Linked DNA regions of Homo sapiens. The protein of the gene in region 1 purifies or fractionates together with the protein of each later gene. This does not show direct contact. Each region holds a gene or a part of one and is shown on either strand. Other genes may lie near its edges.

Region 1 (12,545 bases):
CTGAAAACCAAGATGTAAATCGGTAACACTATGCATTAAACAGAAAGCTTTTGCACAACCACATATGTAACCGCTTAGTCGTATCAAGGTCCACATGTGACCAGAAAGCAGGCAGTCCTTAGGTGGATGGCCAGGGGCCAGGCAGTGTGAGGTCTCCAAGAACCCAGGGCTAGAGCAGCTAAGCCCCAGGTCATGTTATCAGCTACAGCTGTGGAATAAGCCAGGTTTAAAGAAGGACATTCTGCAAAAGTGCAGGACCTATTTCACAACTTCTAGAAGTAGAAATTCACATATTCCATCATGATCCTCCCCACCATGCAGAGACTATTTGACTCCTAAGGCCACACTGTTTCCATCCCATAGATTTCACAGAGGTGATTAGGTTCTTTGTAGAATACTTTTTCCTCATTCTGGAATGAGGGATACTGGAGTCTTCTGGTGTAATGTGCAGTCAAACCACAGGAAAGGTTCCATTCCTTACCTAAGTCTCGTTGGTCTAATACACCTGCCAGCTACTGAATAAAATGATAATACTGATAAATGGCTGGGCAGAAATCCAACACCCAAATCAGCTGTCAAATTTCAAAGGCACATGATACAAAAATATTTTAGACAATACACTTTATAAAGGCAACTATAAGAAACCGTTAAAGTTACATTTTTATTAAACAGCCAAAAATCTTAAGACAAATACCTACAGACCATTTCTTCATTGGCAAATATTTTCCAGTCATAAAAGGTGATAATTTATGGGATTATATTCCAGTTTCCTCTCATGTAAATAAATACATACACTGAATCTCTAATACCACTCTCTCTAGATGTATACATCTATTTGGAATTGCTTTCTTAGTATGCACTCAGCAAGCACTAGCATAAGAACACCTGAGGTTCTCTGTCCTCATTTAATACCTGTAAGAGAAAAGGACTTTATTCTACTGAATTCTGCCCTTTTTTTGCAACAACTGAATTATCCCCATATTTATTTACAATTTTAAGCTTGATTGCTGTCCACGGAGTTACTGTTGCTTCTCAATTATAACTAGTGTTAGAAGGCTTGATTTCATAAATGTTCTTTTTAATCCAAAGATAGATCATATATGAAAACCTTCCTCAATACTCCTTTCAAATCAGATGCATATAAACTATGATCCCAATTTCCCTGTTAGACGTATTTCTGTTGGATATTTCCTCCGTTGTCACCACAGAGGAAGGGAAAAAGCAGAAAAGCTGCCCACCTAACAAAGGCTAACATAATGGCTAGGCTAATATATTGACATGCTATCATCTTTATGATGTTTTGAATCTAACTAGCAGACATACAGTCAACTTCCTGTTGACCATGTGCATCTAATCTGCTTTCTTAATTATACAAATAATTTTTATTTCAAATTAGCTTCTTTCTACTACTCAGTATAATCCTCTCACAGCCTGGCATATACTTGGTAGCACATCATTCACTAGAGAGAGTACGAGAGAAAATTAGGTTGACAATATGGGGCAAAGGGGTAGTCTCCTTTAAGGTGAGGGGAAAGGAGATGGGAATGAAACATGCCAAGTGTATGATGGTTAGGGAAAGAAATATCTTAGTAGAAGCTAGAAAACCTCTACTAACAGGATCACATTCCAAAAGGGCAACCAGGAAATGGCAATGACTCCATGACTTCTCTGTCAGAGCACCAATGGTCAAAGGCATTCCATGTCAAGTGTCAGGAAATGGAAAGCGAACCGGCCAATCTAGTTTAACAGCACATACTCGGAAAAGGAAACACGCTGCCAAAGGAAAGAGCTGACATCCAGTCCACAGAGGTTCTGAGTACCCAGTGGCAGTGAGCCCCTCCAAACTCTGCAGAGCTGACTGTGCTGTCTGCACCCTGCCTCATTTGGGGAAGAATCTGAGAGAGCTAAAAGACAAATTTCAGAAGGTGATGTTTTCAAAGAAAGAGTAAACAAACAGCTTGACAATGTTGACTTTTTTTTTCTTTTCAGGTAACCCTTGTTTGCAGGAAGATAAATAAGAAGGCTTCCTTAGGATACTGACCCACTTAGAGAGGCACAGAAGGAAGAAGAGTTAAAAGCAGCAAAGCCGGGTTTTTTTGTTTTGTTTTGTTTTGTTTTGTTTTGAGATGGAGTCTCACTCTGTTGCCCAAGCTGGAGTACAACGGCATGATCTCAGCTCGCTGCAACCTCCGCCTCCCACGTTCAAGTGATTCTCCTGCCTCAGCCTCCCAAGTAGCTGGGATTACAGGCGCCCGCCACCACGCTCAGCTAATTTTTTTTGTATTTTTAGTAGAGACAGGGTTTCACCAGGTTGGCCAGGCTGCTCTTGAACTCCTGACCTCAGGTGATCCACCCGCCTCGGCCTCCCAAAGTGCTGGGATTACAGGCGTGAGCCACCACGCCCGGCCCCCAAAGCTGTTTCTTTTGTCTTTAGCGTAAAGCTCTCCTGCCATGCAGTATCTACATAACTGACGTGACTGCCAGCAAGCTCAGTCACTCCGTGGTCTTTTTCTCTTTCCAGTTCTTCTCTCTCTCTTCAAGTTCTGCCTCAGTGAAAGCTGCAGGTCCCCAGTTAGTGATCAGGTGAGGGTTCTTTGAACCTAAGAGGCAAACATGCTTTAAATACAGGAAGTATTATATTCTTCAGGATACCCCATCATTTTTCTACAGACAAAATAGTAACTTCCCTACTTTATTTCTTCTTTGAGGAACATGCATAAATGTCATACCAGCTAAAACAATTAGAAGATGTATACCAAGGGGATTAACTGGGCCCTCTTACCTATTAGGGGATAAGATTTTCAAGAGAAATTTATCCTGAACAGCTTGGTTTTTTTACATTTGGGCTAAAAAAGTTTCTTTAGTACAATTCAAATACACAAGTGAAACAGAAAAATAAATTTAAAAATAAATATATGGGCAGGGCGTGGTGGCTCACGCCTGTAATTCCAGGACTTTGGGAGGCTGAGGCGGGCGGATCACGAGGTCAGGAGATCAAGACCATCCTGGTTAACACGGTGAAACCCCGTCTCTACTAAAAATACAAAAAATTAGCCGGTCGTGGTGGCGGGCACCTGTAGTCCCAGCTACTTGGGAGGTTAAGGCAGGAGAATGGCATGAACCCAGGAGGCGGAGCTTGCAGTGAGCCAAGATCGCACCACTGCACTCCATCCAGCCTGGGCGACAGAGCGAGACTCCATCTCAAAATAAATAAATTAATTAAATAAAATAAAAATGAAAAATAAAAATAAATATATGATTACTTCATAGAGTCTGTTACCTGGTTCTATCAGTCGAATTAATCCTTCATGATGGGCCACTTTGTCCTTCCAGCTCTTGGTCTTATTAGTTGCCATCTCCAGCTTCTTTTTAACTTCCTGAAACAAAAGTGGATTTTGGACTATGCAGACACACGGGTAGTTTAAGAACCAAATCACAACTATTGGGCCCTTACTATGTATTTGTGAATTATCTCATTAAATCCTCTCATAGCCCATTCTAAGAAGTGGGAACTACTATTACCCCATTGTACAGAGTGAAAACGGGTTCAGAGAAGGTCAGTAACCTGCCGAGAGTCACACAGCAGGAAATGGTAGAGCCAGAATTGGAACCCAGGCTGTCTGATTCCAAAGCCTATTCTTCCACCATCTGCATACGAATTACAATGGGTGTATGGCCCTGTGTGCCAGTTACAGTTTACTGCCTCTCCACTCCAAATCCACCCTGAACTGTCCTGCTGGTGAAACTAAAATAATTCTCCTCACTAGCTGGCAGCATAAAGCTTTGTCAGTAGAGGGTGCTGAAGGGACACGAGGAGGGAGGGACTTTTCTTCTAGGTTCCACTCAGCGGCTCCTGTGGCACTCAGAACACCCACAGTGCTCACCACCAGTGAGTTTCTGTAGCACCTCCCTGTGGGCAGCTTTTGCCGGTGGCCTCCCAGTGAGCTTTGCTGGCACAGCACCTCAACAAACTTTTCTGCCATCTGTGCACCCTCTCCATGGAGGTATGGATCACAACACTGGGGTTAAGGGGCAAGAAGCAAAGAATGCTCTTCCAGATCCACTCCCTCCCTGGTGCTCTGCCTCAGTTTTCGAGGCAGTGGCTGCTCCCTACGTCTGCTGTTCCTGCATTCTCAAAGCCTTCTTTACAACACAGTAGGTAATCTCCTATGACAGTTAATAATGTTTTATATTAAACTTTCCCTGTTCAAATTACTGTGCAGTTTCTGTCTCTGATGGATGTATAATATATCTTATCTCCTGTAAAAACTCCCTCTTTTTTCTTTCTTACAGCTAAGCAAGATTCTTACTACAGCTTCATATTGGCAGCTAAGCAAATAATTCTATTATTGAGAAATGTTTTTCAAAAATTTAAATATACAAGTTTGCAGGGCCAAGTCTCATTACCTCGTACTGCTCAAGTGCTTGCTTCCGTTCTAACTCAAGCTGCTCCAGCTGCTCCATGGCCTCCTGCAGGGCCTGTTCCTTCAGGACACGCTGATTCTCCAACTCCTGCTTCTCCGCCTCGGTTGTCTGAATGGCCTGCTGCTGCTCCAAGTGCCACTTTTCTAGTTCAGCCCTCTTGGAAGACTCTTCCTCCAACAACCTACAATGTGGAGGAAAGCTCCAGATCAAATCCTGCCCAGGTCACCACCCTGACCCAGCAGACGAGGGAAGCATTTTAGACAAGAGAATATTTGAGGTCGTCTAATCCCCCTTTCATTCCACCAGGAGGAAAGCAGGAGCCAGAGAAGCTCATATTCACAAAGCTGGTAAAGCAGCCTATATGTCCTGCTCTAAGCTCTCTCAGTTTCACCCGTTTGTGAAATAAAAAATAACATTTATCCAGAGTTTAATGTGTGCCAGGAACTGGCCTAAGAGTCAAGTGTATTTTCTCAATTAATCCTCACAGTAAATTTAGGTGCTGCTACTCATATTTTAGAGATGGTGCAAGTGAGACACAAAGGTTCAGTGGCCTGTACTAGGATCATCCACCTGCCAGGTGGCAGGGCCAAGATTTGAAGTTTGCCTGGTTGCTACAACATGAAAACATTTTCATCTAGTAAAAACCTGTTACCATGGAAAAAGCTGATAATGAAGATGAAGAAAGGAGTGAACGCAGACAGAATAGAGATACTATTTATTGAACAATTGCTACATGCCAGGCCCTTGCCTCCATTATTGCTAATCCCCTGACAATCCTGAAAGGTATTGTCCCTACATTACAGATGAAGCAATGAAAAACCAAAGGGTTTAAAAGTATGTTGCACAGGTTATAATGGATTTTAACCCAGGTCTGTGTGACTCCAAAATAACAGGAATACCTATCTGGGAATACCCAGCTATGTAGTTGTTTAAATAAACTAACAAACAGCCAAAACCTGCATTAAAGTGTATATAGTGTCGTTCGATGCCAGCCAAGGACAGGATACATATCTAGTGGCTTGAGCAACAATATTATGGTAACAAAGTCAAGTCACATGACTGGTCAGTTACTACTACCTGCCAGCATCTGCTCTTATAAAACTAACAACAAAGGAATAAAGTAACAGACTATACCAACACCAATTTCCAAATTCCCTCTACAACTTCCTGCAAGGTTGTTATTCAACTCAGCTCCAATACTCTAGGTGATGGGCTACCACTCGTTGCCTCACAAATTGGGCCAGTTTATTTATGGGCAGCTTCAATTCTTACGAAGTTTTTTCTTATACTAAGATGAGTTCTCCCATCCACTACCCTAGTTCCACAAAGGAAGTATCTACTCCCTCTTCCCTGTGATAGCCCTTTCGCAACTGGAAGGCAGCTTTGTTGCCTGTTGAGAACATCCTTCTCCAAGAAGACCACCTCCAGCCTTAACTAATGGGACCCAGCTTCCAGACTCAATATCCTTCTTTGGAGACACTGAGGTCTCCTCAGATGTCTCTTGGAGTTTGATGTACACAACAGAACACGACACTACAGATGTGGTCTGACCAGTGCAGAGTTTATTCACTCAGTTGATGTGTATTTTTTATGTGCCTTCTACGTGCTTTTCTAGGCACTGGGGATATAAGAATGAACAAGACTGGATGGGTCTGTTTTTTCATTCTAGTGGTAAAAGTATGGAGGGGGAATGGACATTTCCAGGTGCTTAGGCTGCCCAGCCTCTGAACTCCTTCATGTGTCTAGGGGAACTGCCATAGTAGAAGACTTGATGGAAGGTAGGGCTCATTTCCCGCTATAGAATCCACAGGCCAGACACCTGCCCTCCCACCCCTTGGCAGCTAGGGTATGGTGGAGGCACAAGCTGGGCTTGGCTATGTAGATGCTCCTTCTGGAACTTTGACTCTGAAGCACCTGGCACAAAGAAGCAGAGCCAGTAGAGAATTCATCTTGCCGGTGGCAGTAATATGCAGTGTTGAGTGACAGCAGGAGCGATGGCACTGCTGATGCCTGGTACCAACATGGGCGCCAGCGGCATCCTCACTGGACTCTTCCCATGGCCTGGCTTGGGCTGTAGTTGGGGCTGCTCATCCCCCTGTGATTCCTGCCTGTGTTCAAGGCCTGGTCACCTGCCTTTCTGTGGAACTGGCAAACTATTTAAGAAACTTTCAACAAATTGTTTTATTGCTTTAGCTAATACAAGGTGGTTTCTGTGGTTCGCAAGTAAGACTCCTGACTAAAGACTTCAGTGCCTCACTCTTTTTCTGTGTATCGGCTTCCTCATTTATCAAAAAAGGAATAGAAACTACACCTACCATCAAAGGTTTATTAGTGTATTAAATGCGATAATGCACATAAGGTGTTTACATGCCTACCACACAGCAAGTACTGGTAGGTAACAGCTCATATTATAGAGGGACAATTATCTCATTTGCTCTGGACACTTCACATTCATTAAGGCTGCCTAAGAGTGTATAGGGTTTTGGCAACCACATTTCAGGGAAATGAAACTGTAGAACTTTTCAAATGAATTTCTATAAAGCCAAGTCTCCTGGATCCTGTACTTGTTCTTTTGATATGTTAAATTAGCTTCTTGGTCTAAAATCATCATTCTAGCCTGTCAACATCTTTTTTCTGAATGCTTATTTTTACATTCCACACATTATATATCTTCCCCGTCTGCAAATGAGATAAAGGAACAGAAAGCAACACACTCGGAGTGACTCCCAAATGCTAGGCATTACTCTAAAACACTCTGCATGCATCATTTCATTTCATCCTCACAACAACTGTATAAAGTTGGCCATTCTCTCAAGTTACACAGCTAAAAGTACCAGAGCCAGGAATCAAACCGTGGCCTCATTCCAGAGCCCAGTCTCTAACCTTCAAATATATGAAAAGTATTATATCAAATGTAAGAGGGACTGTTGTTCCATGTGGTCCCATTGGATCCATTCATTCATTCAAAAAAATTTCCCTGGGTACTTACTGTGTGCCAGGTACGAGTTGCTGGGAATACAGACACGACTAAGGTGTACTCCAGGGTGTTACAGATCCAAAGTGGGTAAGAGTTACAACAGGACAGATTATGGCTCAGCCTCAAGAACTTTCCAATAACTCGATTTTTCTTAATTTTTTCTTTTTTGTTTTTTTCTTTTTTGAGACAGGCTGGAGTACAGTGGTGCAATCTCAGCTCACTGCAACCTCTACCTCCTGGATTCAAGTGTCTCAGCCTCCCGAGTAGCTGGGATTATAGGCATGCACCACCACGCCCAGCTAATTTTTGTATTTTTAGTAGAGACAGGGTTTCACCATGCTGGCCAGGCTGGTCTCAAACTCCGAGCCTCAAGGGATCCGCCCGCCTCAGCCTCCCAAAGTGCTGGGATTAGAGCGTGAGCCACCATGTCCGGCCAATAACTTGAGTATTCTACATTTTAAATGAACAGTTTTCTTCTGAGTTCTCATTCAGAAGTGGCTAGATCACCTTCAGGATTACACATAAAAAAATAAACTTCATAGCAGAAAGGGTGACTATAGTCAATCATAATTTAATTGTACATTTAAAACTAACTAAAACAGTATAGTGGACTGTTTGTAAGACTAAGGATAAATGCTTGAGGTGATGGATACCCCATTTACCCTGATGTGATTATTACACATTGTATGCCTGTATCAAAATATCTCATGTACCTCACAAATATAAACACCTACTGTGTACCCACAAAAATTAAAAGTTAATAAAAAACTTCAATCGTAATTTTTAAAATTACAAGATCTGGCCAGGTGCAGTGGCTCAAGCCTGTAATCCCAGCACTTTGGGAGGCCGAGGCGGGTGGATCACGAGGTCAGGAGATCAAGACCATCCCGGCTAACACGGTTAAACCCCGTCTCTACTAAAAATACAAAAAATTAGCTGGGCGTGGTGGCAGGCGCCTGTAGTCCCAGCTGCTCAGGAGGCTGAGGCAGGAGAATGGCTTGAACCTGGGAGGCAGAGCTTGCAGTGAGCCGAGATCACGCCACTACACTCCAGTCTGGGTGACAGAGCGAGACTCCGTCTCAAAAAAAAAAAAAAAATTACAAGATCTACGTGTTTCAAGCTAAAGTTCTTGTCTTTCATTTAAACAATTTACTATAAAAAGTTTCTCTTTTTTTTTAAGACACTGTCTTTTTAAGAGACTGACAGAGAAAGAACTATCCATTAAAAGAATAATGAGATTCCAAATATTCCACGAATGATCGGCTGTTGCTTTAAGAAAGGAGTGAGCAAACAAATTTACAAGAAAAAAAGAAACAACCCCATCAAAAAGTGGGCGAAGGACATGAACAGACACTTCTCAAAAGAAGACATTTATGCAGCCAAAAAACACATGAAAAAATGCTCACCATCACTGGCCATCAGAGAAATGCAAATCAAAACCACAATGAGATACCATCTCACACCAGTTAGAATGGCAATCATTAAAAAGTCAGGAAACAACAGGTGCTAGAGAGGATGTGGAGAAATAGGAACACTTTTACACTGTTGGTGGGACTGTAAACTAGTTCAACCTTTGTGGAAGTCAGTGTGGCGATTCCTCAGGGATCTAGAATTAGAAATACCATTTGACCCAGCCATCCCATTACTGGGTATATACCCAAAGGATTATAAATCATGCTGCTATAAAGACACATGCACAAGTATGTTTATTGCGGCATTATTCACAATAGCAAAGACTTGGAATCAACCCAAATGTCCAACAATGATAGACTGGATGAAGAAAATGTGGCACATATACACCATGGAATACTATGCAGCCATAAAAAAGGATGAGTTCATGTCCTTTGTAGGGACATGGATGAAATTGGAAATCATCATTCTCAGTAAACTATCGCAAGAACAAAAAACCAAACACCGCATATTCTCACTCATAGGTGGGAACTGAACAATGAGAACACTTGGACACAGGAAGGGGAACATCACACACCGGGGCCTGTTGTGGGGTGGGGGGAGGGGGGAGGGATAGCATTAGGAGATATACCTAATGCTAAATGACGAGTTAATGGGTGTAGCACACCAGCATGGCACATGTATACATATGTAACAAACCTGCACATTGTGCACATGTACCCTAAAACTTAAAGTATAATAATAATAAAATTAAAAAAAAAAAAAAAGGAGTGAGAAGAGTTAACTGAGCAGCCTTTTACACAGGCCCTTGGCGTAAGATTATGTGCATTTCATTAGTGCCAGTTTTCCAACCCAACTCCAGGATGACTTCCCTTGATTTTTCTATCCAGAAAGGCCTATCCTGAGGAGCAAAGAACAAACCCTCTCTGCCAATCTGACAGAAAGTCCCTCTGAATCAGCCACAGCCTTCAGTGACTTCAGGAAAGAGGAACACATTTCACTTAAAAATGACCACTAGGCCGGGCGTGGTGGCTCATGCCTGTAATCCCAGCACTTTGGGAGACCGAGACAGGCGGATCACAAGGTCAGGAGATGGAGTCCATCCTGGCCAACATGGCAAAACCCCATCTCTACTAAAAATACAAAAATTAGCCAGGTGTGGTGGTGCGCGCCTGTACTCCCAGCTACTCGGGAGGCTGAGGCAGGAGAGTCGCTTGAACCCAGGAGGCGGAGATTGCAGTGAGCCGAGATCACGCCACTGCACTCCAGCCTGATAACAGAGCAAGACTCCATCTCAGAAAAAAAAAGGGAGCAGGGGGGCAAATTTGTCCATTTCAGGTTCCAAAAACTAAGAGAAAAAAAAATTTAGAATAATAAAATAATTATATTCATAAAATGCCCTTTGCACATTAAGAAAAAGTTAAATTTGTGTGCAGTACTTTCAGCATATTGGATCAGAGCTGTATGTAGAAGTTACATCTGGATTCAAAAGGTTGAAACCATTTTGCTATTGCTTAAATCAGAGTGTGCAAAATAATTAGCTGGAGTTTTTTGCCGTTGTTGTTTTGTGTTTTTTTTGAGACAGGGTCTCATTCTGTCCCCCAGGCTGTAGTACAGTGGTGCAAATGCAGCTCACTGCAGCCTCAACCTCCTGGACTCAAGTGATCCTCCTGCCTCAGCCTCCCAAGTAGACTTTTTTTTTTTTTTTTTTTTAAAGATGAGGTTTCACCATGTTGCTCAGGCTGGTCATAAACTCCTGGGTTCAAGTGATCCTCCAGCCTCGGCCTCCCAAAGTGTGGTGGGTGAGCCACACTTTGTGGTGTATTTTTCAGAAGCTTTGTGAGGTGATTCTGATACATAACATTGGTTAAAAAACCACTGGCTTCAATTATCCAAAATTATCCCTTATTCAAAATATCACTCATTCTATAAACACTAAATAACTAAGACTAGTATTTCTAGAATTATCTGGTTCCCTCTGTGATCTAGTCTCTGCTGTGTCATAATCAACTTCCCACAAAACTGCAGTAATACATATAGCATATTTCACCTGCGAATTCTTTGCACAAAAACAATCTATTAACTCTCAACACGGCTCAAATTATGAGGTGGCTCAAAAAATGTTGAGTGTCATGTAGAACGTCACTCTGGACGTCACATGGCACTCAAACATTCCCGTAGAGTGACTCTTCTGCTAAAATCACTGCCGAGTGGCACTGGAGGGGAGTTCCAAGAACCTGATTAACCTCACAGTGCAGTGAATGTGCACCTGTGGGGCCTATATATGCCTGGCAATATGCTACATGCTTAATTTTCTATTTAGAAAATAATTTTTCCTTAAAAAAATTTAAATTTAAAATCTAAATGTCCAAAACAATTTATTTATTTTTGAAGTCACTTTTGGCAAAATATACAACTAAAGATGGCTTCTTCTTTCTCTTCCTATCTAAAGATTAAAGAAACATCTTTTGCTGCTCCACATGTAAAATGGCAGCCATGGAAAATCTACCCTAGCTCATCTCATAACTGCTCCCCAAAACAGGGGGTCAGAGATCAAAGACTGGACCCTGTGCTGCTACTGTAGTGAATACTTTTTAGTGTTGTCTCCCATCCCAGACACCTTAAATAATGTAAATGGGGCAGCAAAGTAGAAACTGGCAGAGGATAGGCTCAATTTTTCCCTTTGGGAGTCTTCATTTTATTTTGTCCTCCCTGCTGCCATGAAGGCCCAAAATTGAGAATTTTCATCTGCGAACATGACTATCATAAAGTTCTAAGGGGAAAAAAAATCTAGGTTTCAAATACTTTTAAAATTAGGATTTCAAGTAGTAATTACTGAAGGAATGTTACCAATCCTGAATGACCAAATAGAAACTGCATATTTCTTCCTTATTCCTCAAAACCTGACGGCAACGTTGGCCTGAACAGGCCTCTGCCTGCATACCAATGGCCCTCTCTGGTCTGGAGCGTGTTGAAGATGCCAAGCTCTTATCAGAGGTAATTCTGGGTTTGTGGATTTTCTCGAATAAGACTAAGGGTACCTCATCAAACATACCTACCAGACTGCTCTAAAATAGGCCCTTATTTAGCCCCAGAAGCAAGGGTTTCCCAGCGCCTCAGAATGAAAAGAAACACTCCAGCCGGTCGAGTCTCCACAGTCTTTCTAATCTGGACAGCACCTCGAGCTCAGTCACAGCCAGAGCAGAGACACTTCTCCCTCTCCACCAGAGTGTTAGTCATTCCAAGAAACTGTATTAGCCCAGGCAAAGTACATAAAGGCAAAGTCTGCAAACAAATCTGGCACCTGGCCTGAAGCTTCCGCACTGTCTCTTCATCTTGCCGGGCCTGTCTCTCATCTTCAAGAGCCTCCTGCAGCTTTAGGTACATGTCTTCCAGCTCCCGTACTCGCTGTAAATACTGTTCCAGTTCAGAGGACTTTTGAGCAACCTGTTCTTCCATCTGCTGTCTGATCTGTTGGTATAAAAGGGTCTTGTTTAAATGCAGGTTGACTTCTTTCTCAGGGAAAGCCTCACCTCCACCTGAGGGGTTGCCCACAGCTGCAGCCTCAGCCCATCAGGGTGGCAGGACCCTGTCCTTCAATCCTTGAACTTAAAGATGGAGGAGATGAGGGTACCACACCCAATCGCAATAGTGAAAGAGTCTGGGAAGAGCAAATTATAACCCAAATTATGTTCTGCCCTGCTGTATTTTCCATCCCTTCCACTCCACATTT
Region 2 (12,574 bases), on another chromosome or scaffold:
TTTTATTTTTTCTATTTTTTTTTTTTTTTTTTTTTGAGACAGAGTCTTGCTCTGTCACCCAAGGCTGGAGTGCAGTGGCACAATCTCGGCTCACTGCAGCCTCTGCCTCCCGGGTTCTAGTGATTCTCCTGCCTCAGCCTCCCGAGTAGCTGAGATTATAGGCGCACGCCACCATACCCGACTAATTTTTGTATTTTCAGCAGAGATGGGGTTTCACCATGTTGGCCAGGCTGGTCTCGAACTCCTGACCTGAAGTGATCTGCTCCTTTACTTCCCATAGTGCTGGGATTACAGGTGTGAGCCACAGCGCCCAGCCCCATTTTATTATTTCTATATTCTCATCTCCGTCTAGTTCAGTGCCTAAAATCAAGAAACACGCAAATGATTTTTTTAGGATTGAAAATAGGCCAGGTGTGGTAGCTCACACCTGTAATCCTAGCACTTTGGGAACCCGAGATGGGAGGATCACTTGAGGCCAGGGGTTTGAGACCAGCCTGGCAAACATGGCGGAATCCCATCTCTGTTTAAAAATACATATATATATATATTTTTTTTTAATTGAAAATAAAAAAGACCGGCCAGGCACGGTGGCTCACGCCTGTAATCCCAGCACTTTGGGAGGCAGAGGCGGGCAGATCACGAAGGTCAGGAGATCAAGACCATCCTGGCTAACATAGTGAAACCCCGTCTCTACTAAAAATACAAAACATTAGCCAAGTGTGGCGGCGGGCGCCTGTAGTCCCAGCTACTTGGGAGGCTGAGGCAGGAGAATGGCATGAACTCGGGAGGCGCAGCCTGCAGTGAGCCAAGATCACACCACAGGGCACTTCCAGCCTGGGCAACAAAGCGAGACTCCGTCTCAACAACAACAACAACAAAAAAAGACAAGAAAGGAAAAGAAAAAAGACCTTATTCTAGGAAACAAGAAAGACTCTATGGTGCTTTAAGTTTTATTAAGCAAACAGATGAACATGCATTTATGGGAATAAGCACAATTCAATAGGTAACTTAAGGAAAGGTGGTTTTTATTTGTTTTATGTGTGCTTTTCATCAAAATGTCAAAACTTGTGCTCTTTGGTGGCCACTGTCCCTCAAGTAGTTACCTTTGGAACTGCAGAGATACCAAAAAATGATGTATTGTGCAGAATAATTTGAGAATTCTTTGAAGCCTGTCTCCAGTCCACAGACAGAGCATACTCATCTGAACACTAAAATTCTGCAGAAATTCCTACAAAACTATCCCAAGAACCACCACTGGGACGCATCTGGAGTCTGTCTGGGGCAGGGACGAATGATACTTTCTGGTATGTGAGGGATCAGTGCCCTGGCCATAAGGAAAGACTCTACCTGTGGAATGCAAACTGCCTTCGTAACTAAGGCATTGCTGCACTGCCCTCAGGTATGCAGCTACCATTCCAAACAACCTAACTGGAAAAAAACTAAGCCAGCACTATTGCTCACATGAATGTGGTCATTAATCGCATAATCTACAGGGCGGCCTCCACAAAGCTGCCATTACAATCTGATGGCAGATAAAGCAGGCCCGAGTCAGCTGGGAGGTTCACATGAAGGTGGCCAGAGAGCATCTGGTAAATGCCACTGCGAACTCTAAACACAAGGTGCCATCACTATTATTAAAGAAACTTTTCGATCTGTTTGATATTCCACAACATCCGGAATCATCCACTGATAACCCCTTCAGAATCAGTAAGCCTGAGCATGACGCCCTTAACACAGCACAGACTTTCAAGGTATAGAGAAGAAACAAAAGGCAAGGACATCTGCGAGGCCGAGGCGGGCAGATCACTGGAGGTCAGGAGTTCCAGATCAGCCTGGCCAACACTGTGAAACCCCATCTCTATTAAAAATACAAAAACTAACCAGGCAAGGTGGCAGGCGCCTGTAATCCCAGCACTTTGGGAAGCTGAGGTGGGCAGATCACCTGAGGTCAGGAGTTCCAGATCAGCCTGGCCAACATGGTAAAACCCCATCTCTATTAAAAATACAAAAACTAGCCAGGCAAGGTGGCAGGTGCCTGTAATCCCAGCACTTTGGGAGGCCAAGGCAGGTGGATCACAAGGTCAGGAAATCGAGACCATACTGGCCAACACGGTGAAATCCCGTCTCTACTATAAATACAAAAATTAGCCAGGCGTGGTGGTGGATGCCTGTAGTCCCAGTTACTCAGGAGGCTGAGGCAGGGGAATCACTTGAACCTGGGAGGCAGAGGTTACAGTGAGCTGAGATCGCACCACTGCCTCCAGCCCGGGCGACAGAGCGAGACTCTGTCTCAAAATAAATAAATACATACATACATACATACATACATACATACATACATACATACATACAAACATACAAAAACTAGCCAGGCAAGGTGGCAGGCGCCTGTAATCCCAACTACTGAGGAGGCTGAGGCAGAGGAATCATTTGAACCTGGGCAGAGACTCTCTCTCAAAAAAAAAAAAAAAAAAAAAGCAAGGACAAATGCCCCTCTGCTCCCACTCCAGAAATGCCTGGCCATCAGAGATGTGGATGGGTATCCAGGATTAGGGAAAAGTTCATGTTATCTCCCTGCAGAATGCTATGTTGGTGGAAATCCAGAATTTTTTTTAAATATATGCATACTTTTAGATTTATTTATTTTTAAACAGAGTCTCACTCTGTCACCCAGGCTAGAGTGCAGTGGTGTGATCTCAGTGCACTGCAACTTCCATCTCCCAGGTTCAAGCAATTATCATGCCACAGCCTCCCAAGTAGCTGAGGCTGAGATTACACGTGTGCACCACTACGCCAGACTAATTTTTTTTTTTTTTTGAAACAGGAGTTTTGCTCTTGTTGCCTAGGCTGGAGTGCAACGGCCGGATCTTGGCTCACCGCAACCTCCGCCTCCTGGGTTCAAGCAATTCTCCTTCCTCAGCCTCCCAAGTAGCTGGGATTACAGGTATGAGCACCACCACACCCAGCTAATTTTGTATTTTTAGTAGACATGGGGTTTCTCCATGTTGGTCAAGCTGGTCTCGAACTCCCGACCTCTGGTGATCCGCCCGCCTCTGCCTCCCAAAGTGCTGGAGATTACAGGCGTGAGCCACCACGCCCGGCCTTAATTTTTGTATCTTTAGTAGAGACGGGGTTTCACCATGTTAGCCAGGCTGGTCTCTAAGTTCTGACCTCAGGTGATCTGCCCGCCTCGGCCTTCCCAAGTGCTGGGATCCCAGGCGTGAGCCACCCCGCCCAGCCTAGATTATTTAAATATCACATCACAACTTCATATACATTTGAGATTAAAAGTGATAAAGTTCCAAGTCCCAAAGCAGCACGAGCTAAGGATACCATTTCCATTCAAATGAGTTGTTATTCTTCTCCCAAAAAGTGGATAAAGAGTGCAGACCTAATCACCCATCTACTTCTCTGTGTTATGTTACTTTCCCAAGTAATAAATATCACCAGCCTAATGGCCACTTTCTTTAAAGCTTTAAGTCTATTGTCAAAAGAAAAACACACCAATGTTTTTGATGTAGTGGCCTCATATCTCAACCAGCATAACCTCACCAAAGAGGCTACCAAACTCTAGAATTAAGTTTAAGTCCACACAAGTGAAAGTTTTCCAGGTGAATCAAGAGAGATCCAAGTTGCACTGGCACAGCTTCAATGTCTCCATGAGGAGGCTGCATGCAGGCAGGCTCATGAATCAAGTGGAACGACAACATCTTGGGCAAGAACAGGAGGGCTGGCATTCAACACTGCCTGCCTGGTCGGTTCCCTTGCCCTGGGCTCCAACCTGGCAATCCCAGGAGGGTTAAAACAGAACTTCAGCACACGGGAATAACCGCAGAGGAAGGCACCGAAAAGGAGGGAAGGAAGAAGGTGTGAGCTCACCATCTGCAGCTGAGGTTCAAACTCTTTGAGCTGGTTTCCTGATTTTCATCAAGACAGCCAGGCAGTATTTGGTAAACAGTGTACCAAGTAGCCCTGGAGACTCTGAGCAGCCTACCCCCTTAACCACAAAAACACCGGACAGGCGGAGGGAAAAAGAGAAGACAGGATCCAGGAATGGTGCACACACCCAGCCAAAGGCCACCTTCCCTCAGGCACCCAAGCCAAGAGTGGCATCCCCAGGTCCTGTTATACGTCAAAGGCTGCAGCCGTGTGGGCCCCAAAGCAATAGCACAGCTTGCTCCCCTGACCAACCAACTCCTTCTGAAAAGAAAATCGACCTTCTCTGATGGAGCCGAAACCCAATGAATCAATGAAATTCAACAGCAGCAGCAATCACTACCTCTCCAATTGCGGACCTCTCAGGATGCCTGGCCAGGCTTGAAAGCCCTAGAGGAGTAAGGAGTTCGGATTTCTGATTCAGTGAGTCTGGGGAAACTCTGAGGAGGGTCACAAGGGCAAACCTCCCCGGCCTCTCCTGCTTGGCCCCAGCCCTAGGACGTGCTGCGGTAAGGGCTTTGCTCCCCCCGCCCTACACACACACACACACACACACACACACACAGACACACACACACCACCCCCCCCCCCCCGGGACACGGAGGGTGGGAAGGAAGGAAATGGAGGCCGCTCATCAAAGCGCCCGAAATCAGCGCACCCGCGTGTGTCCTGCGTCGCCCCCCAGGCCACCCCAGGACTAAGCCCTGCCCTCTCACCGGCGCGTCCCAGCCACGCCTTCCCTCCAGCGTTGCTCCGGCACCCTCGCCTAACCTCTGCACGTCTCGGATTCCCAGCTTTCTCCTAAATCGCGTCCCTCCAAAAGTCGCCCCAGCTCCCCCTTCTGCAGCTGTCTACACCTCCCCCACTCATTAGCAGCTCTTAACCCCCGACGGCCCTGCTCCTGCACTTCCCTCTCCAGCAGGCCCCGGACCCCGGAAAACTGCCCCGCTCCCACAGCGCCGCCCCCATGGGCCCCCGCCCCTTCCCCGAGCCGACCCCACTCGCCCTCGTCCTCCCCAAGATGTCTTCTCCAGGCGCCCCCCGGGGCCCCGAGCACTCGCCCCCTCCCACAGAGACAGGAAGTTCCGCGCGGCCCGACCCGCTTCCCTCAGGGCGCGGAGCTCGGCGCGGCGGCCCTGACGGGGCGCGGGCCCGGCCGCGGACCAGCGCCCCCGCGTCCCGCCCGCGGCGCCCCAACCGTCGCGGCGACCCCTGACCTCGGCGGCCACTCACCTCCCAATCCGTCGCACACTCCGTTCAGGCTGCCACGGCGTCTCCAGACCCAGCTCCGGCCGGGCTCCCGCTACCGCTTTTGCTCCGGCAGCACTGCCCAGCCCTGCCCAGACCCCTGCGGCCGCTTCTGCCGCCAGCCGCGACCGCACCGCCCCCGCCGCTCCCGCTGGGCTCTGTCCATTGGCTACCGGACACCGAGCCCCGCCCCACAGCCTCCCCGGCGCCCCCGATTGGGCCAGATGAGTAGAGAGGCGGCTCACCCCGCGTGAGGACGAGGGAAAGCCCCAGGACGCGCATTGGTGACTTCTCCTGTCAATCAAACGGGGAGTGCCTATTTAATGGGCTGCGAGGGTGGCGCAGATTACTCTCCCAAAGCCGCTCGCTGGTGGTGGTCCTTGAGACGCGCTTCCCGGGGCTGGAGTTTTGCGGTTTCGTCGGCATCCAGGGGTAAGAGGGCGCGGCAGGGCAGCACCGCACCTGACCGGAAGTTCAGGGAAGGTAATCCTACAGTCTTTCAGAAAGTTTCCTCTCCCAAGGGACTCAAAGAAGCTAATGTCGTTAGGAGCTCCTCCGACTTGCGCCAAAAGCGTCATTCCACGTGGACCCGCTTAGTTTAAACGGGGGGTTGGGGGGGCGTATGTTGCTGCTCTCTCTAATAAAATATATTTGGATGGCAAGGCACCAGGCAATGCACACGCATTCTTTCCAATTCTCACAATCACCTTGCATGATAGGGTATTAGCCCCGTTCTGCAGAGGGAAATACTCTTGAAGGAAAATGGAGAGCACTTCCTGAGCACTGTCCTACGCGCTGTCCAAGCACTGCTTCATGTCATCCAGGTGGAGAGGATGGTGAGAGGAACCCCAGGTGAGGGGTGAGCCAGGTAACTTGCTGGGGGTGATGTGGAGTAAAGAGAGTAAATGGCAGAGCCAGGATTAGAAACCCAGGTCAGCCCAACCCTTGAGAATAATAATGATGACTGTGTAGCACTATGGGAAAATGCTTAAACTAAAACGTTAAAAGAAAAAGCCAGATAGAGCCAGGCATGGTGACATGCACCTGGAATCCCAGCTTCTTGGGACGCCGAGGCAGGAGAATCGCTTCAGCCCAGGAGTTTGAGGCCAACCTGGGCCACATAGCAAGACCCAGTTCTCTAAAAAGTAAAATAAAAGAAAATAATAATAAAAGAAAAAGCTAGATACAAAATGGTAGAAACTGTAGAATTGCTGCTACATATAGATAGGTATGAGAAAAGAGTCCACAAAGAAATCTAGTGGTTGTTTACTTTCTAGACTGCTCTGTGGCATTGTCCTTATGACAATAATTGAGAAAGAAACAAAAGAACCGGCTAGGCACGGTGGCTCACGCCTGGAATCCCAGTACTCTGGGAGGCCGAGGCGGGCAGATCACAAGGTCAGGAGTTTGAGACCAGCCTGGCCAACACAGTGAAAGCCTGTCTCTGCTAAAAATACAAAAAATTAGCTGGGTGTGGTGGCATGCACCTGTAATCCCAGCTACTTGGGAGTCTGAGGCAGGAGAATCACTTGAACCTGGGAGGCGGAGGTTGCAGTGAGCCAAGATCACGCCACTGTACTCCAGCCCTGGCGACAGTGCGAGACTCCATCTCAAAAAAAAAAAAAAAAAACCAACACACAGTGCCAGGACAAACCACTGCCAAGAAGTCTCTCCTCATTCTCCAGGACTGAGCCAACAGGGACCTCTTTGCCACCCACAATACCTGTGGACCATTTGTATAGATAGAACTCAGCCATCAGCTCTCAGCACTTTCATATCTGGGTAAGTTCCGCTTACATCGCAATTCCATGCCCTATAAAAATATAGAGCCTTGTCGGGCGCTGTGGCTCACGCCTGTAATCCTAGCACTTTGGGAGGCCGAGACGGGCGGATCACGAGGTCAGGAGATCAAGACCATCCTGGCTAACATGGTGAAACCCTGTCTCTACTAAAAATACAAAAAATTAGCCAGGCGTGGTGGCGGTCGCCTGTGGTCCCAGCTACTCGGGAGGCTGAGGCAGGAGAATGGCGTGAACCCGGGAGGCGGAGCTTGCAGTGAGCTGATATCGCGCCACTGCACTCCAGCCCGGGCAACAGAGTGAGACTCCGCCTCAAAAAAAAAAAGAAATACAGAGCCTCTCCCAAATTTTTGGGGGTTTTTGTTTTGGTTTGTTTGAGACAGGGTCTCACTCTGATGCCCAGGCTGGAATGCAGTGGCACAATGATGGCTCACTGCAGCCTTGACCTCCTAGGCTCAAGCCATCCTCCTGCCTCAGCCTCCCAAGTAGCTGCGACCACTGGTGCGCACCACCATGCCCAGTTAATTATTTTTTAAAATCTTTGTAGAGACAGAATCTCGCCATGTTGCCCAGGCTCGTCTTGAACTCCTGGGCTCAAGCAATCCTCCTGCCTCATCCTCCCAAAGTGCTGGGATTACACGCACGAGCCACTGTACGCAGCCTCTCCCAAGGTTTCTGAACAAGCGTCTGTCATCAGGCCTCCTGCTCTTCCACACACCGCATGCTCACTGGTCTCACCATCATCCCCTTATCCAGTTGCACGAATCCCCCTGCACTCCAAGCACTGCTGAGTCTAGCAGGGGTTCCTGAAGACTGGAAGCTGGAGAGAGGCATCAAGCCTGGCACTGCCCAGCAACAAGACAGGATGCCTCGTGAGCCTTTTTGGCTGCCTGGCCCCAGGAGTCACCACCTGGTCACGTGACCCATGCCACACTCTGGCCACTTCACATGCCTTTGGTTTTCTGCACTCTCCCCCTCTTCTTTTCTCTCCTCCTCCTTCTCAGGACAAACACAAAATTCCTTTCCTTGTCTTGCACCTAGCAGCTTGACATCATTGCCTGAACTCTTTGGGCCTTATACCTTCTGTCCTGGCAGCTTATCAGGGTATTTTTCCAAAGATAGCTCCCCGTTGCCACATGTGAGCACCCCAACTTTGTTCCCCACAAACATTTCACAACATTCCATCCAGCCTCCTCCTTCAGTCATATTTGAACAGGCCTGGAGCCCAATCCTGCCTCCACCCCTTTTCAGCCAAGGGGCCTTGGGCCAGTCACTGCAGCTCTCTGCACCTCTGTGTCCCCTCCGTGATATGGGGATTAGGAAGAGCAACAGGGCTGTGGTAAGGAGTCAAAGCATGGAGAGCTGTTCCGGGCACACGGCTGTGAATGCTGTGTCTGAACGGTGGACATGTGGTCATGCCTTGTCAGCTGCTCCTTCCTTCCCCCAAAATGTGACCATTGCCACAGAGTGCCTGGGACTGAGACTGACCGGCTTTAGTTTAGTCCTTTATTAACCATTTCCCACTAAGCAGCCTGGATAAACAGACAGTCTGGGCTAAAACATACTTGCACAGAGAATATCATATTCTCAAAAAATTTAAAACATCCAGATATAGTTGTATTGCTGAAAATACAGTGATACGTGTATTTTCAGTGTGATAAGTACAGTGATTTATGGATTGTACAGTGATACATGTCTTTCAAGAAAAAAAATCAAAATCAGTTACAGACATTCACTCACTCAATAATTCCAATATTTAGAACGTGCCAGGCAGGGAAGGTGGCTCGGGGTGGACCTGGGTCCTGCTGATGTTCCTGGAAAGATCTGGCAAGGACATAGAGTTTAGAACAGAAGAGGGTGCAGTGGTATTGAAAACAGTGCTGTTTACCTGAGCCAAAATGAGTGGAAGATTACAGAGAGCAAAGATCAGGAGGCAAGAACTCCTCCTGTCCAGGAAGAGAGGAGGGTTCCACTTGGCTGCATTGCAGGCACAAAGAGAAGCCAGGGGAAACAAGGCAGTAAGGCAGCCGAGCGGCAAGGAGCTCTGCGGCCCTGGCAAGTGACTTCACTACTCCAGCCCTTGGTTTTCCCTACTGTAAAACGGGGATAATCACAAAACCTAGTGATTGTTAGCTTAGAGAATCTGTGAGGATTTGTGAGTTCGCTCTGCAATATTCAGCATGGGGCCTGGCACAGGTCATTGTTCAGTGTGTTCAAGGACCCCTGATTTTGTAAAAGTGCTTCAGGGTATATTCACTTTTTTAAATTTTTAATCGTGTCTAAAAGAAAAGCCTGGGCGTGGTGGCTCACGCCTAAAATCCCAGTACTTTGGGAGGCCAAGGCGGGAGCATCACTTGAGTCCAAGAGTTGGAGACCAGTCTGGGCAACATCATGAGATCCTGGTCTCAAAAAAAAAAAAAAAAAAAAAAAAAATTAGACAGACGTGGTGGTGCAGGCCTGTAGTCCCAGGTACTCAGGAGGCTGAGGTGGGAGGATCACTTGAGCCCAGGAGATTGAGGCTGCAGTGAACCAAGATTGCACCACTGCACTCCAGCCTGGGCAACAGAGCAGGACCCTGTCTCAAAAATAAATAAATAAATAAATAAATAAATAAATAAATAAATAAATGGAAAACAAACCTAAGAACACGTGCTGTGCACCAACTGTTAATATTTTGGCCATATCAAAGCACTAACTATGGCGGCTGGAGGAACACATTTCTGAACATACCTCTGAATGACATGCTCACCTGCCAAGTACGTGTAAAGATCTGAATTCTTTGTAAATGTGTCATTGATTAGGAGGCAATTACCCCAATCTCCCTGGCTTTGTTTTGTTTTGTTCCATTCTGGCTGCACATGTCTGCTCACGTCAAATTGTACCAGCAAGTACAATGTTCCACTCCTGCCATGCCCGGCTGGAGCCTGCTCCCAGACAAAGGTAGGTATGGAGCAGCATACAAACAGGGCTTCCCAAGTGGGCACTGGGCACTGCCCAGGTGCCCTGAATTGGGATCAATCCATTCTTTTTTTTTTTTTTTTTTTTTTGAGACGGAGTCTCACTCAGTCGCCGAGGCTGGAGTGCAGTGGCGCTATCTCGGCTCACTGCAAGCTCTGCCTCCCGGGTTCACGCCATTCTCCTGCCTCAGCCTCCCGAGTAGCTGGGACTACAAGCGCGTGCCACTGCGCCCAGCTAATTTTTTGTATTTTTTTAGTAGAGACGGGGTTTCACCGTGTTAGCCAGGATGATCTCCATCTCCTGACCTCATGATCTGCCCACCTCGGCCTCCCAAAGTGCTGGGATTCCAGGCGTGAGCCACCACGCCCGGCCATGGGATCACTCAATTTTTTTGCAAGTTCTTCAGTTGGTTCTACTTCTATCTTATTTTACTAAGTGGAAAAGCTCATTTGGAGAATTCGGGTTTACAGTGTTACCATTTGTACCAAAGTGGGCCAGTGTCAACAATTTCAAAGTAACTGTTTTAAAATTTGGAATGAAAACCTAACAATGCCCAGGCTTTATGTGATACATTTTAAAGTATTTTCTACTCTGGGAGGAAGATATAAACTCCGGCAATAGTCCCTCCTTGAGTCCTTGCTATGCAGGAGGATGAGGAGGTCCCAGAAGCCAACAGATTCCATTCTGAATCCAGCCAATCATCTTACCTTTTGCCAGCTCCTAATTAGATAAATTAAAAGGCATCCTGCAATTGTAAAACTAATTTTTTTTAAAGTTATTGGATGCAACTGCTGTGAATCCAGATTGCCTTAGTGTAAGGTAAAATGAGATACTGAGGCTACTTTTTTTTTTTTTTTTTTTGAGACGGAGTCTCGCTGTGTTGCCCAGGCTGGAGTGCAGTGGCGCGATCTCGGCTCACTGCAAGCTCCGCCTCTCAGGTTCCAGCGACTCTCCTGCCTCAGCCTCCCGAGTAGCTGGGACTACAGGCACCTGCCACCACGCCTGGCTAATTTTTTATATTTTTTAGTAGAGACGGGGTTTCACCGTGTGTTAGCCAGGATTGTCTCGATCTCCTGACCTCGTGATCCGCCTGCCTCAGCTTCCCAAAGTGCTGGGATTACAGGCGTGAATGAGGCTACTTTTTAAAACATTGCAGCAGTCTCAAAATGTAAATGCATCAAAAAAGTAACATTGCCCTTCCTGATTAACTTTATAACAAATATTTTCTCTTTTTTTATTTTTTTTCCATAAACCTTTTGCATTCCTAATTTTTAAAATAATTTTACCGTTTCTTTATACTTTTTGGAGACAGGGTCTTGCTATGTTAGCCCAGGCTGGATTCAAACTCCTAGGCTCAAGTGATCCTCCCACTTCAGCCCTCCCGAGTAGCTGGTGCTATAGGCAGGCACTACCATGCCGAGAATTTTTATACTTTTTAAATGTGGGTACAAGATTACATATGTGCCTTACATTCTATTTATTTTTTTTTCTTTTTCTTTTGAGAGAGGGTCTTGCTTTGTCACCCAGACTGCAGTGCAATGGTGTGATCATACCTCACTGCAGCCTCAGCCTCCCAAATAGCTGGGACTACAGGCATGTCCCACCACACCTGGCTAATGGTTTAAATATTTTTTGCAGAGATGGGGTCTCACTACGTTGCCCAGACTGATCTTGAACTCCTGGTCTTAAGCGATCCTCCCACATCAGCTTTTGAAAGTGCTGAGATTGGCCAAACGCAGTGGCTCATGCCTGTAACCTCAGCACTCTGGGAGGCCGAGGCAGGCAGATCACTTGAGGCCAGGAGTTCGAGACAAGCCTGGACAATATGGCAAAACTGCATCTGTACTAAAAATACAAATTTTAGCCGGGTGTGGTGGTGGGCGCCTGTAGTCCCAGCCACTTGGGAGGCTGAGGAATGAGAATCACTTAAACCCAGGAGGTGGAGGTTGCAGTGAGCTGAGATCATGCCACTGCACTCTAGCCTGGGCGACAGAGCAAGATTCTGCCAAAAAAAAAAAGTGCTAGGTACTGAGATTACAGACATAAGCCACGGCGCCCAGCCCTATGACAAATAAATGTTGTTAACTTGAACTTGTAAAATAACCTGTACACCAATACATACATTATAAATTGTATACCAATAAAAATAAAATACCTGCCAGGCACAGTGGCTCATGCCTATAATCCCAGCACTTTGGGAGGCCTAGGAGGGCGGATCACTTGAGGTCAGAAGTTCAAGACCAGCCTTGAGGCGGGGCACGGTGGCTCATGCCTGTAATCCCAGCACTTTGGGAGGCCAAGGCGGGCGGATCACGAGGTCAGGAGATTGAGACCATCCTGGCTAACACGGTGAAACCCTGTCTCCACTACAAATACAAAAAATTAGCCAGGCGTCATGGCAGGCGCCTGTGGTCCCAGCTACTCGGGAGGCTGAGGCAGAAGAATGGCGTGAACCCGGGAGGCGGAGCTTGCAGTGAGTCGAGATCGCGCCACTGCACTCCAGCCTGGGCGACAGAATGAGACTCAGTCTCAAAAAAAAAAAAAAAAAAAAGACCAGCCTGGCCAACATGGTGAAACTATGTCTCTACTAAAAACACAAAAATTAGCTGGGCATGGTGACGCACGCCTGTAAT

What was found.
Region 2: the proteins of SWAP70 (region 1) and PACSIN2 purify together in Homo sapiens (affinity purification with mass spectrometry; 2 studies listed by BioGRID and IntAct, with this or other methods). This does not show direct contact.

The regions. Positions count from the first base shown.
Region 1 is NC_000011.10:9,739,919-9,752,463, reverse strand, and holds part of SWAP70 (switch-associated protein 70), read right to left. Parts: intron 12,284-12,545; coding exon 12,117-12,283; intron 4,607-12,116; coding exon 4,408-4,606; intron 3,378-4,407; coding exon 3,281-3,377; intron 2,601-3,280; coding exon 2,494-2,600; 3' UTR 1-2,493.
Region 2 is NC_000022.11:43,009,852-43,022,425, forward strand, and holds the start of PACSIN2 (protein kinase C and casein kinase substrate in neurons protein 2), read right to left. Parts: upstream 5,299-12,574; 5' UTR 5,170-5,298; intron 1-5,169.